Homo sapiens: one gene and its partners. The protein of the gene in region 2 interacts with the protein of the main gene of each other region in a pairwise test. Each region holds a gene or a part of one and is shown on either strand. Other genes may lie near its edges. The genes, in order: ATXN3, H2AP and GLE1.

Region 1 (3,600 bases), on a different chromosome or scaffold from region 2:
TGCCAGAAAACATTTTAAGTTTTGACTTACTTAAAGCCTTTACATTACAAATGCCTTTATGTTATGTCTAAAATAGAAGATTGGTTGCAGTTATTACCAGTGCTTTTGTTCTTTAGAGTCCATAAAACAGACCTGGAACGAGTGTTAGAAGCAAATGATGGCTCAGGAATGTTAGACGAAGATGAGGAGGATTTGCAGAGGGCTCTGGCACTAAGTCGCCAAGAAATTGACATGGAAGATGAGGAAGCAGATCTCCGCAGGGCTATTCAGCTAAGTATGCAAGGTAAAGACATTCTGATGTGTGTTGTATTCATTGCTGAAGAATTGATTCCAATTATTCTTAGATTTCATGGAAGTTAATGTACTCTTAGAGGTGTTTTGACAATTACTGCAGAAGCAATAGCTATATAGTGGGCTTTCCCTTTAGATTTCTTATAATGGAAATCACTTTTTACAACCTATATTTTATTAGGAGTAGTTATATTTTTACTCCTGGTTATTTTATTTGGTTTCAACACTGTACTAACACAATAGTAAATTGTGGTTTTAATCTTTGTGGGTATCAGTTGACCCTTATCCAAATCAGCTGTTACATAAATATGTGCCATTAGACACTATGGAAGGGCCTGGACAGGGAATATAAACTGATTTTACAAAAACCCAACATTTATTGGCTATGCAACTTAAACCGTAAGCCCACTTTGGTGGGCCCAGTTTTTTAGTGATATAAACTATCAATAGAGAAAAGCGAAAACATATCCCCTAGACAATCTAGGCAAAGAAAAATGTTAAGACATAGCTCAAAGTAGCTTAATTAAAAGTTTGAAGTGGGTTTTTTGTTTTATTTTTTTCTAACTCATATGTATTTGCTTCTACTTTCTAATGAAATTATTTATCAGTTGATTTCCTTAGATATCTAAATAAAATTGAAATTTCATTAATGGGAAGATTATTTTTATCCTGAACTTTTCTTGCCTCTATGCATGCCTCTGAGTACTCCATATGGTGTGCAATCCCATTTTTGATTAATAGAGTCCTGCTGGATTAGCAGGGACAGAAATCAGCTTTAGATTTCTTTCTTTTTTTTTTTTCTTTCTTTTTTTTTTTTTTTTTTTTTGAGTCAGAGTCTCACTGTCGCCCAGCCTGGAGTGCAGTGATCTTGGCTCACTGCAACCCCTGCCTCCGAGGTTCAAGCGATTCTCCTGCCTCAGCCTCCTGAGTAGCTGGGACTACAGGCGCCTACCACCACGCCCAGCTAATTTTTTGTACTTTTAGTAGAGATAGGGTTTTGCCCTTTTGGCCAGGCTGGTCTTGAACTCCTGACCTCAGGTGATCCACCTGCCTTGGCCTCCCAAAGTGCTGGGATTACATGTGTGAGCCACCACGCCCAGCCAGAAGAGTAGAATATTCTTAAAGAGAAAACGTTTTAAAGGCTTACTCAAATGAGTATAAACAAACATATTGTTGCTTGAATTGGTAAATACAGTGATTGGTTTTTGTTGTGTTGTGTTTTGTTTTCAGGTAGTTCCAGAAACATATCTCAAGATATGACACAGACATCAGGTACAAATCTTACTTCAGAAGAGCTTCGGAAGAGACGAGAAGCCTACTTTGAAAAGTAAAGTAGTTGGTACAAGTTAAAGTAGCATGTTTAATATTTGCTTTGGCTATTTTGTCTATTTGTAAATGGTTACTGCCTGAATCCTGTGAATATTTGAATGTATTTTTTAAAAATTTACAGCAAATAGGACGGGCACGGTGGCTTACGCCTGTGATGCTAGCAGTTTGGGAGGCCAAGGCGGGCAGATTGCCTGAGGTCAGGAGTTCGAGACCAGCCTGGGCAACACAGTGAAACCCCATCTCTACTAAAAATACAAAAGAATCAGCTGGGCATGGAAGCGTGCGCCTGTAGTCCCAGCTGCTTGGGAGGCTGAGCCAGGAGAATTGCTTGAACCCGGGACGTGGAGGTTGCAGTGAGCCGAGATCGCACCACTGCCCTCCAGACTGGGTGACAGAGTGAGACTCCGTCTCCAAAAATATATGTATATATATATAAATAAAAATAAAAATTTACGGCAAATAACATGAAACAAAAAAACCTTGCCCCAATACTGGATAAATTTTTTAAACTGAGTGAAGGAAACCTTATAAAATTTCATTTATTAAAAGAAAAATGAAATTAGGACAAGACAAGAAGAATGCCAATTGATCCTTTGGATGTACTTCTTGCTTACCTGATTAACCCTGCAAAATTCCTCTACCAATCAGTACGAAAAACAGCTTTGGAGGTATGGGAGCGCATTCCCAAATAGACGTGGTAGTTCATTTAGCTGCTCATGGCCGCTTCAGGCAGTCCTGTAAGCCTGTTAGCATCAGGGGAATGGATGCAAACCATAAATCTGGATCAACTCCTAAAACCTTACCTTGTGCCCAGCCTTGTAAGTGCTTGCTAAATAGGAATTCCACCATATGAAAATACATTCTTTTCAAGTAACTATCATTCAGACTTTTGTCCCCCACTTTTTTTTTTTAAAGAAAAATAAAAGGCTGGGCACGGTGGCTTACGTCTGTAATCCCACCATTTTAGGAGGCCAAGGCAGGTGGATCACCTGAGGTCAGGAATTCAAGACCAGCCTGACCAACATGGTGAAACCTCATCTCTACTAAAAATACAAAAATTAGCCGGGCATGGTGGTGGGTGCCTGTAATCCCAGCTACTTGGGAGGCTCAGACAGGAGAATCGCTTGAATCTGGGAGGCAGAAGTTGCAGTGAGCTGAGATAACGCCATTGCACTCCAGCCTGGGGGACAAGAGCGAGACTTCGTCTCAAAAAAAAAGAGAAAGAAAACTTCATGTTAAAGATTACAAGATAAATAATCAGACCCACTGATCCTAGGTCAGAAAACAGAGTCATAGCTCAATCTGACTTACTATTTGCTGTATTTCATCCATTCTGAGATGCACATAGTTTCACATTTCAATGTCTCTGAAATTGAGAAGCATCTTACAGTCATAATTGACAGTATATTAGCAGCACCTATAAATATTGGCTCATTTTACATTTGATGGTATAATGAAGAAAATATTTACCTTTTTTTCTGTTTTGTTTTTAAGTCACAACTCAGAAGTAGATGAAGGAAAATTCTGATCAGCTGACATCCTCTTAATGTGAGATATTTCTAGTCTTTATTCAGTATAGATTAATGGCTAATTATATGTTAAATTTCAAAGTAGTGCTTATTAGTGCTTTTTACTTTTAAGTTTCAAAATTAACTTTTTTATTATAATAAACTCCAAATTTATACAAAAGTAGAAAAACTAGCATACTCCTGTTTATGACCCAGATTCAACAAATACTAGCACACGGCCAATCTTGCTTTTTTTTTTTTTTTTTTTTGAGATGGAGTCTTGCTCTGTTGCCCAGGCTGGAGTGCAATGGCACAATTTCTGCTCACTGCAACCTCTGCCTCCTGAGTTCAAGCGATTCTCCCACTTCAGCCTCCCAAGTAGCTGGGATTACAGGTACACACCACCATGCCTGGCTAATTCTTGTATTTTTAGTAGACACGGGATTTCACCATGTCGTCCAGGCTGGCCTTA
Region 2 (2,787 bases):
AAGAAATAAGAAATGAAATCCAGCAGGCCATCATTTCTTTTTTGCATTTTTCATGATGGTTTCTCCTTCACTCTTCAATCTCCATGTAAAGCCCCTGTCCCATGAACTTCATGCCAGCCAGTGTGCCCCTCTCCACCCACCCCTGTGGCCACCGCCCTCTGACTTCAGACCTTTGCTATCCTGAATAAAGCCTCCTGCACCTCAGTCAGAGTCTGCAGCTCCACCTCAGGCCCCAGCATCAGGCTGGGAATTCAACAAGCCTCAGAGGCCCCCAGCCAACTCCCTGGCCTCACAAGGCCTTCCTGTTCAGAGACAATGAGGAAGTCTCGGTGTCTTTATCCCAGCCAGTTCCTCCCCACAGGGCCGGCGCCCTCACTGTCACCATTGGAAACTGCCCCCTCTAAATCACTGATTCAAACACCACACTGGCCACCCCTTCCCCGCCTTCAGCTCTCTGGGGATAGCTTCCCCTGGATGTCTTACAGACACCTACAACCCAAAGCGACAGAAACTGAGAGGAGTCAGAAACATACTCATGGATTTACATCCTTTAATAGCACTTGTTGATGACAACAGCAGATATTCCTCAGCTGTGACACATTTTTGCCCTGGCTAAGCCTGTGAGGTTCCCTTCAAGGCTCTGGGACCCAGTCTTCAGTCATTCTTCCTGGATTTGGGCATCTCATCAAACAAAAAGCGAGTCACATCACTCTCAGCGCTGTGGGGCTCACGGTTGTTGTCCACTTCTCTCTCCCTATCTTGTGAAGTGTTGCGCATACTGCCATTGTTGCTGGCCTCCAAGCCTACCCGCTCCATGATGTAGTCAGCAAGGCAATCGAGCAAGGTAAGGAGGGTATTTATTGTGGAGGAACTCTGGCTTTGGACGTCTCGTTCATCTTGCACAACGCGGTCCACGAAGCTCCTAGGGACCTGTAGCTCATTTCTAGAAGGGTCTTGAGTCTGGTTGTTATTTGTAGACGAGTTCTTACAGTTCTTTTTCTCTGACATGATGTTTGCTGGGTTTGGCTCTCATCAGCTCTGCTTGATTCTCTAGCTCAAGTAGGTCTCTGAGGACACTAGTGCTTAGTCCTGCCTATTGTATCCCTCTGCTCCAGGCCCTTATTGGTCAGGGAGCTAGCTGCCTTTGTGACATCCCTAGACTTTGTGATTTCATTGGTGTCCACTGGTCCCTTATCAGACCTCAGCCTAGAAATGTCTATGACACTGATCTAGTCACGCTAATGACTGAACCTTGATTTTGAGGGAACTATAACTCTCTACCTGATTTTGACATTATAAAAATAAATGTGTGCTTCAGTGGAAAACTTTGCTCTGTCTTTAGGACACCACTGCAGGTTATCTGATTCCAGCCTTACATTATCTGTGAAGTCTTTTATAGCCTTTTGTTAGTTGTAGGCTGCTGATACATGTACAGCATATTCTTTAGTAGAGGTTCGGTTGTTCTTCACCTTATGAAACCAGTTTTGCCTCCATTTACACAATCATTTAATATTACTGATGAATATTCCCATATCAACTCTTTGGTTTCCCTTTTGAAGCAGTCATAACATCTTTTTCTTTTAGCATGTGTTCATTTCATATCTGTATGAGTGTCATGATTTTACCCCATTTGAAAAATATATTTTAGTCATTTTTCAATTAATAATAAGATGCTCAGCCGGGCGCAGTGGCTCACTCCTGTAATCCCAGCACTGTGGGAGGCAGAGGTGGGTGGATCACAAGGTCAGGAGATCGAGACCACAGTTAAACCCCGTCTCTACTAAAAATAAAAATAAAAATAAAAATAATTAGCCGGGCGTGGTGGCGGGCGCCTGTAGTCCCAGCTACTTGGGAGGCTGAGGCCAGAGAATGGTGTGAACCCGGGAAGTGGAGTTTGCAGTGAGCCGAGATCGTGCCACCACACTCCAGCCTGGGAGACAGAGCGGGACTCGGTCTCAAAAATAATAATAATAATAAGATGTTCAATAAGTTTACCTGTCAGTGCCAGGTAAACAGTTGATAGAGAAGTGCATCTTGTGCTCAGTTTAAGCCCAGATGTGTATTTCTTGTCCCTCCTAGGTGAAGCCAAAGCACTAAGAGATGTTTCTTTTCTATTATTTAATTTTCTTCTCTACTAATTCTGTGTTTTCCCTTTGACTTTGGTTCATTTACAGCCAATAACTTTGCCATTCCACAAGGGAAAAAGTGGAAAGAAAAAGGAGTCTCAAATCCAAGCATTTTCAAAATCCAACCATTAGGTTTCAAGGCCTGAGAATATTCTAAGGCTTGAGACTCCTCCCTTTGATGACTCTGATCCTATGACTTCACCTGGGGTCATAAATCTGCCCTCTGGCCTCTAGGTTCTGCCCTCAGTCATTGTTCCTTTATTTTGAATGGTAGCATATGTTTACAGCTGAGTAGTTTTATCAGCCTGCTTCCTCCTGTCAAATTTTGAGAGTCCTGTAGACTTCTTTCATTTCTTCCTCTATTTGTCCCTTTCAGTCTAAGCTGGCATTGTTTCTGCTGATATAACATTGTCAAAAACTTACAGGCCTTTTATGTATGTCATGGGGATTCATGCCATTAGACAAGAGGCTTCTTCAAGATCCCTCATAGAAAATCCCATCTCTATTCCTTGCTTATTCTGAGAAGCACACCCCATATCTCTTCAAAACACCATCTATGTGATTGAATACTTTGATCTTTTGATCCCTTAAAGGCACTAACAAAAGGATGTCTAGCCACGCCCTTGATTTTATCTCTGGAGGATGATTTTGTGGCAATGAA
Region 3 (3,835 bases), on a different chromosome or scaffold from region 2:
TCTTTCACACCTATCAAAAATTTCAACCACAATGCCACTGAACTTGCTAACAAGGGAATAAATGGAAACACCCAACTTTCTTCTAAAGCATTTCTCTTTATATGGCAATATCTCCATTTAACCAATCAGGTCTTAATGAACTACTCTTCTTTTCCTCTAATGAATGGACGCCTTCCTAAAGGTATGGTATACCTCCCAAACTTAGTAAGGAGAGTATACAGAATACCACTTGTGTTCTCAAATGATACAGGATCATTGTTCATGTATGGTGACTTCAGGAGCTTTTTATTTTTTTTTGAAATAGGGTCTCACTCTGTCGCCCAGGCTAGAGGACACTGGCATGATCACAGCTCACTGTAGCCTCAACCTCCCTGGGCTCAGGTGATCCTCCAACCTCAGCCTCCTCAGTAACTGGGACCACAGGCACACACCACTAATTTTTGTATTTTTTTGGTAGATATAGGGTTTCACCATATTGCCCTGGCTGGTCTTGAACTCCAGAGCTCAAGTGATCCGCCTGCCTTGGCCTCCCAAAGGCTGTCAGCCACTGCACCTGGCTGACGTCAGGAGCTATTAAGGTAACTAGGAACTATTGGCACTATAGATCAAATGGTTCCAGATTTGTTATGGCATGTACCCCAAGGCTTTCTTCTATAAGAAGTGTCTTCTTGGCTGAGTGCAATGGCTCACTCCTGTAATCTCAACACTTTGGCAGGGTTAGGTGGGAGGATCGCTTGAGCCCAAGAGTTTGAGGCTACAGTGAGCTATGATCACACTAATGCACTCCAGCCTGGCTGACAGAGTGAGATCCTGTTCAAGCGATTCTCCTGCCTCAGCCTCCTCGGTAGCTGGGATGACAGGTGTGCACCATCACACCCGGCTGATTTTTTATTTTTAGTAGAGACGGGGTTTCACCATGTTGGACAGGCTCGTCTTGAACTCATGACTTCAGGTAATCCAACCACCTCGGCCTCCCAAAGTGCTGGGATTACAGGCGTGAGCCACCGTGCCCGGCCTTTATTTGTATTTTTAGTACAGACAGGGTTTCAATATACTGACCAGCTGGGCTCGAACTCCTGACCCCATGTCATCCGCCCACCTTGGCCTCCCAAAGTGCTGGGATTACAGGTGTGATCCACCGCACCCGGCCTGGGAGTCCCTTCTATATCCCTAAAACAAATTCCTCTTTTCACTTTTGCTAGAATGTACAATTTTCTGTTCTTTATAATGAAAAAAATCCAGAGAAGCCAAGTAAATATAGTATGGAGTAAAAGTGAAAGCAAGGTTGGTCTACAGCTTGGGAAAAATGTATGACACTGGAACCTCATGCTGTTTTACTATCAGGCCCAAATGCTATGCTGTTTCCCCATTCATGTCACCCAGTGGATCAAGGCTACCTCAACCACTGGCCTTCTCTTGTGTGATAACTGAGTTACGTACCTCCAGGAAGTCAAAGAGGAGGGTGGCTGTCACATCTGACAAGGGCTCCATGTTTAAGATCTGTGCCAACCAGCGCCATCCATGATTTAAGCCATGAGGGTGAATCTGGGAGTAGAGAAGCTTGGTTATCATTGATCTCATTTTGTTTAGAAATCTAAACTCCCAGTGTATCATCCAGCCATTACCAAGTGGAAATGAACCCCAGATCATCCAGCCCTAGCACCTGCCACAGGGCAGAAATAACACAAACTAAACAAATTCTGTTTTTCTTTTATTTTTTTGAGACAGGGTCTCACTTTGTTGTCCAGGTTGGAGTGCTATAGTGCGATCATGGATCACTGCAGCCTTCACCTCCTGGGCTCAAGTGATTCTTCCACTTCAGTCTCCCAAGTAGCTGGGACTACAGGCATGCACATGCCACCGTGCTCAGCTAATTTTTTTGTATTTTATTTAGAGACATGGTTTCACCTTGTTGCCCAGGCTGGTCTCAAACTCCTGGAGTCAAATGACCCACCTGTCTCGGCTTCCTAAAGGGCTGGGATTACAGGCATGAATCTACCTCGCCCAGCCTTCTGTATTTAAATGTTTCAGTACATTGGTTCCCACACATTCTTTTTTTTTTTTTTTTTTTTTTTTTGAGGGAGAGTTTTGCTCTTGTTGCCCAGGCTGGAGTGCAATGGCGTGATCTCGGCTCATTGCCACCTCTGCCTCCTGGGTTAAAGCGATTCTCGTGCCTCAGCCTCCCAAGTAGCTGGAATTACAGGTGCCCACCACCATGCCCAGCTAATTTTTGTATTTTTAGTAGAGACGGGGTTTCACCATGTTGGCCAGGCTGGTCTTGAACTCCTGACCTTAGGTGATCCACCCACCTCAGCCTCCCAAAGTGCTGGGATATCAGGCCTGAAGCTACCTCGCCTTCTATTTTTTAATGTTTCAATACATTGGTTCCCACACATTCTTTATAGGCTCCCTTCAATATGCATGTGTCAGCTTCAGTTTCAGGCATTCCATAGGGTAACAATTAGCCTTATTGACATTTTATTTATTATTCTTGGTACCTTTAGCACAGAACCTGGGACACAGCAGGCATACAATAAAAACTTGGATTTAATCAACTTCTATTTTTTCTCTTTAGGTCTCCGTAACTATTAATTTCTCTGTCCTTCTAATCTGTATTCCCTGAGAAATTAATTGGGCTGGCAAGTCAAAGCCCTGAACCCCAGCTGCAGCTTTCTGAGCTTGTTCTGTCCATCTGTGAAGTAAGGTATGTGATCTAGATGGCTTCTAAGGTCTCAACTAGTTCTAAGATGACAATTTCTTGCTCATTCCTCTTGTAAGAAAATCTTCTAACCTTAATGACTGATTTATAACAGACTCTCCTCTGGTAGACTCTGTTACAAAACCAGCTCTTTAAAGTACCAGGTGATCCAAGAAAGTTCCCTAATAATCAACATTCAGTCCTCTACATAATACCCATGAAACTGCCATATAGTTTATCCTTTAACTAGACTGGCTCTCTGAAAGAAGGCCAACATTTCCTGTGGGAGGAATACACATGGACTGTGGTCTAACCTCTCATTATTGACAGTAAGCCTCTTTTACCTACCTCCTGTCGGTTTCCATATGGCCACCGGAGCTGGATGATAGCAGCGTAGAGACGGATCATCCCTGACATGCGTTTTAGAAAGTTGTCTTGCTGCTCCACTTTGGAATCCTTTACTTGGTAACCAAGCATCCTATACGGGAAGAAAAAATTTGGCCGGGTGTGGTGGCTCACGCTTGTAATCCCAGCACTTTGGGAGGCCAAGGTGGGCAGATCACTTGAGGCCAGGAGTTCAAGACTAGCCTGGCCAATGTGGTGAAACCCCATCTCTACTAAAAATACAAAAATTAACTGGGTATGGTGGTGCATGCCTGTTTGTCCCAGCTAATTGGGAGGCTGAGGCATGAGAATTGCTTGAACCTGGGAGGTGGAGGTTGCAGTGAGTCAAGATTGCATCACTGCACTCCAGCCTGGGTAACAGTAAGACTGTGTCTCAAAAAAAAGAAATAAGAAAAAATTCACTGGGACAAGGCCAAAATAAGGGTGACAAATTAGAGATAAATTGCTTTTTTTTGGGAAACAGAGTCTCTGTCACCCAGGCTGGAGTACAGTGGTATGATCAAGGCTCACTGCAAACTTCACCACCCAGGTTCAAGTGATCCTCCCGCCTCAGCCTCCTGAGTAGCTAGGACCACAGGCACATGCCACCATAGCCGGCTAATTTTTTTTTTTGAGATGGAATTTCCATCTTGTCGCCCAGGCTAGAAAGCAATAGCACGATCTCAGGCAATCTCCGCCTCTCGGGTTCAAGCGATTCTTCTGCCTCTGCCTCCCGAGTAGCTGTGATTAAGG

The links.
Region 1: the proteins of H2AP (region 2) and ATXN3 interact in binary tests that used the Homo sapiens proteins (3 or more experiments, as listed by UniProt).
Region 3: the proteins of H2AP (region 2) and GLE1 interact in binary tests that used the Homo sapiens proteins (3 or more experiments, as listed by UniProt).

The regions. Positions count from the first base shown.
Region 1 is NC_000014.9:92,078,983-92,082,582, reverse strand, and holds part of ATXN3 (ataxin-3 reference isoform), read left to right. Parts: intron 1-116; coding exon 117-283; intron 284-1,521; coding exon 1,522-1,618; exon of another isoform or gene 1,619-1,630; intron 1,631-3,114; exon of another isoform or gene 3,115-3,168; intron 3,169-3,600. UniProt on the Homo sapiens protein: Deubiquitinating enzyme involved in protein homeostasis maintenance, transcription, cytoskeleton regulation, myogenesis and degradation of misfolded chaperone substrates.
Region 2 is NC_000023.11:37,989,061-37,991,847, reverse strand, and holds H2AP (huntingtin-interacting protein M), read right to left. Parts: upstream 1,070-2,787; 5' UTR 1,009-1,069; coding exon 655-1,008; 3' UTR 534-654; downstream 1-533.
Region 3 is NC_000009.12:128,535,696-128,539,530, reverse strand, and holds part of GLE1 (mRNA export factor GLE1), read right to left. Parts: intron 3,177-3,835; coding exon 3,047-3,176; intron 2,705-3,046; exon of another isoform or gene 2,576-2,704; intron 1,546-2,575; coding exon 1,441-1,545; intron 1-1,440. UniProt on the Homo sapiens protein: Required for the export of mRNAs containing poly(A) tails from the nucleus into the cytoplasm. May be involved in the terminal step of the mRNA transport through the nuclear pore complex (NPC).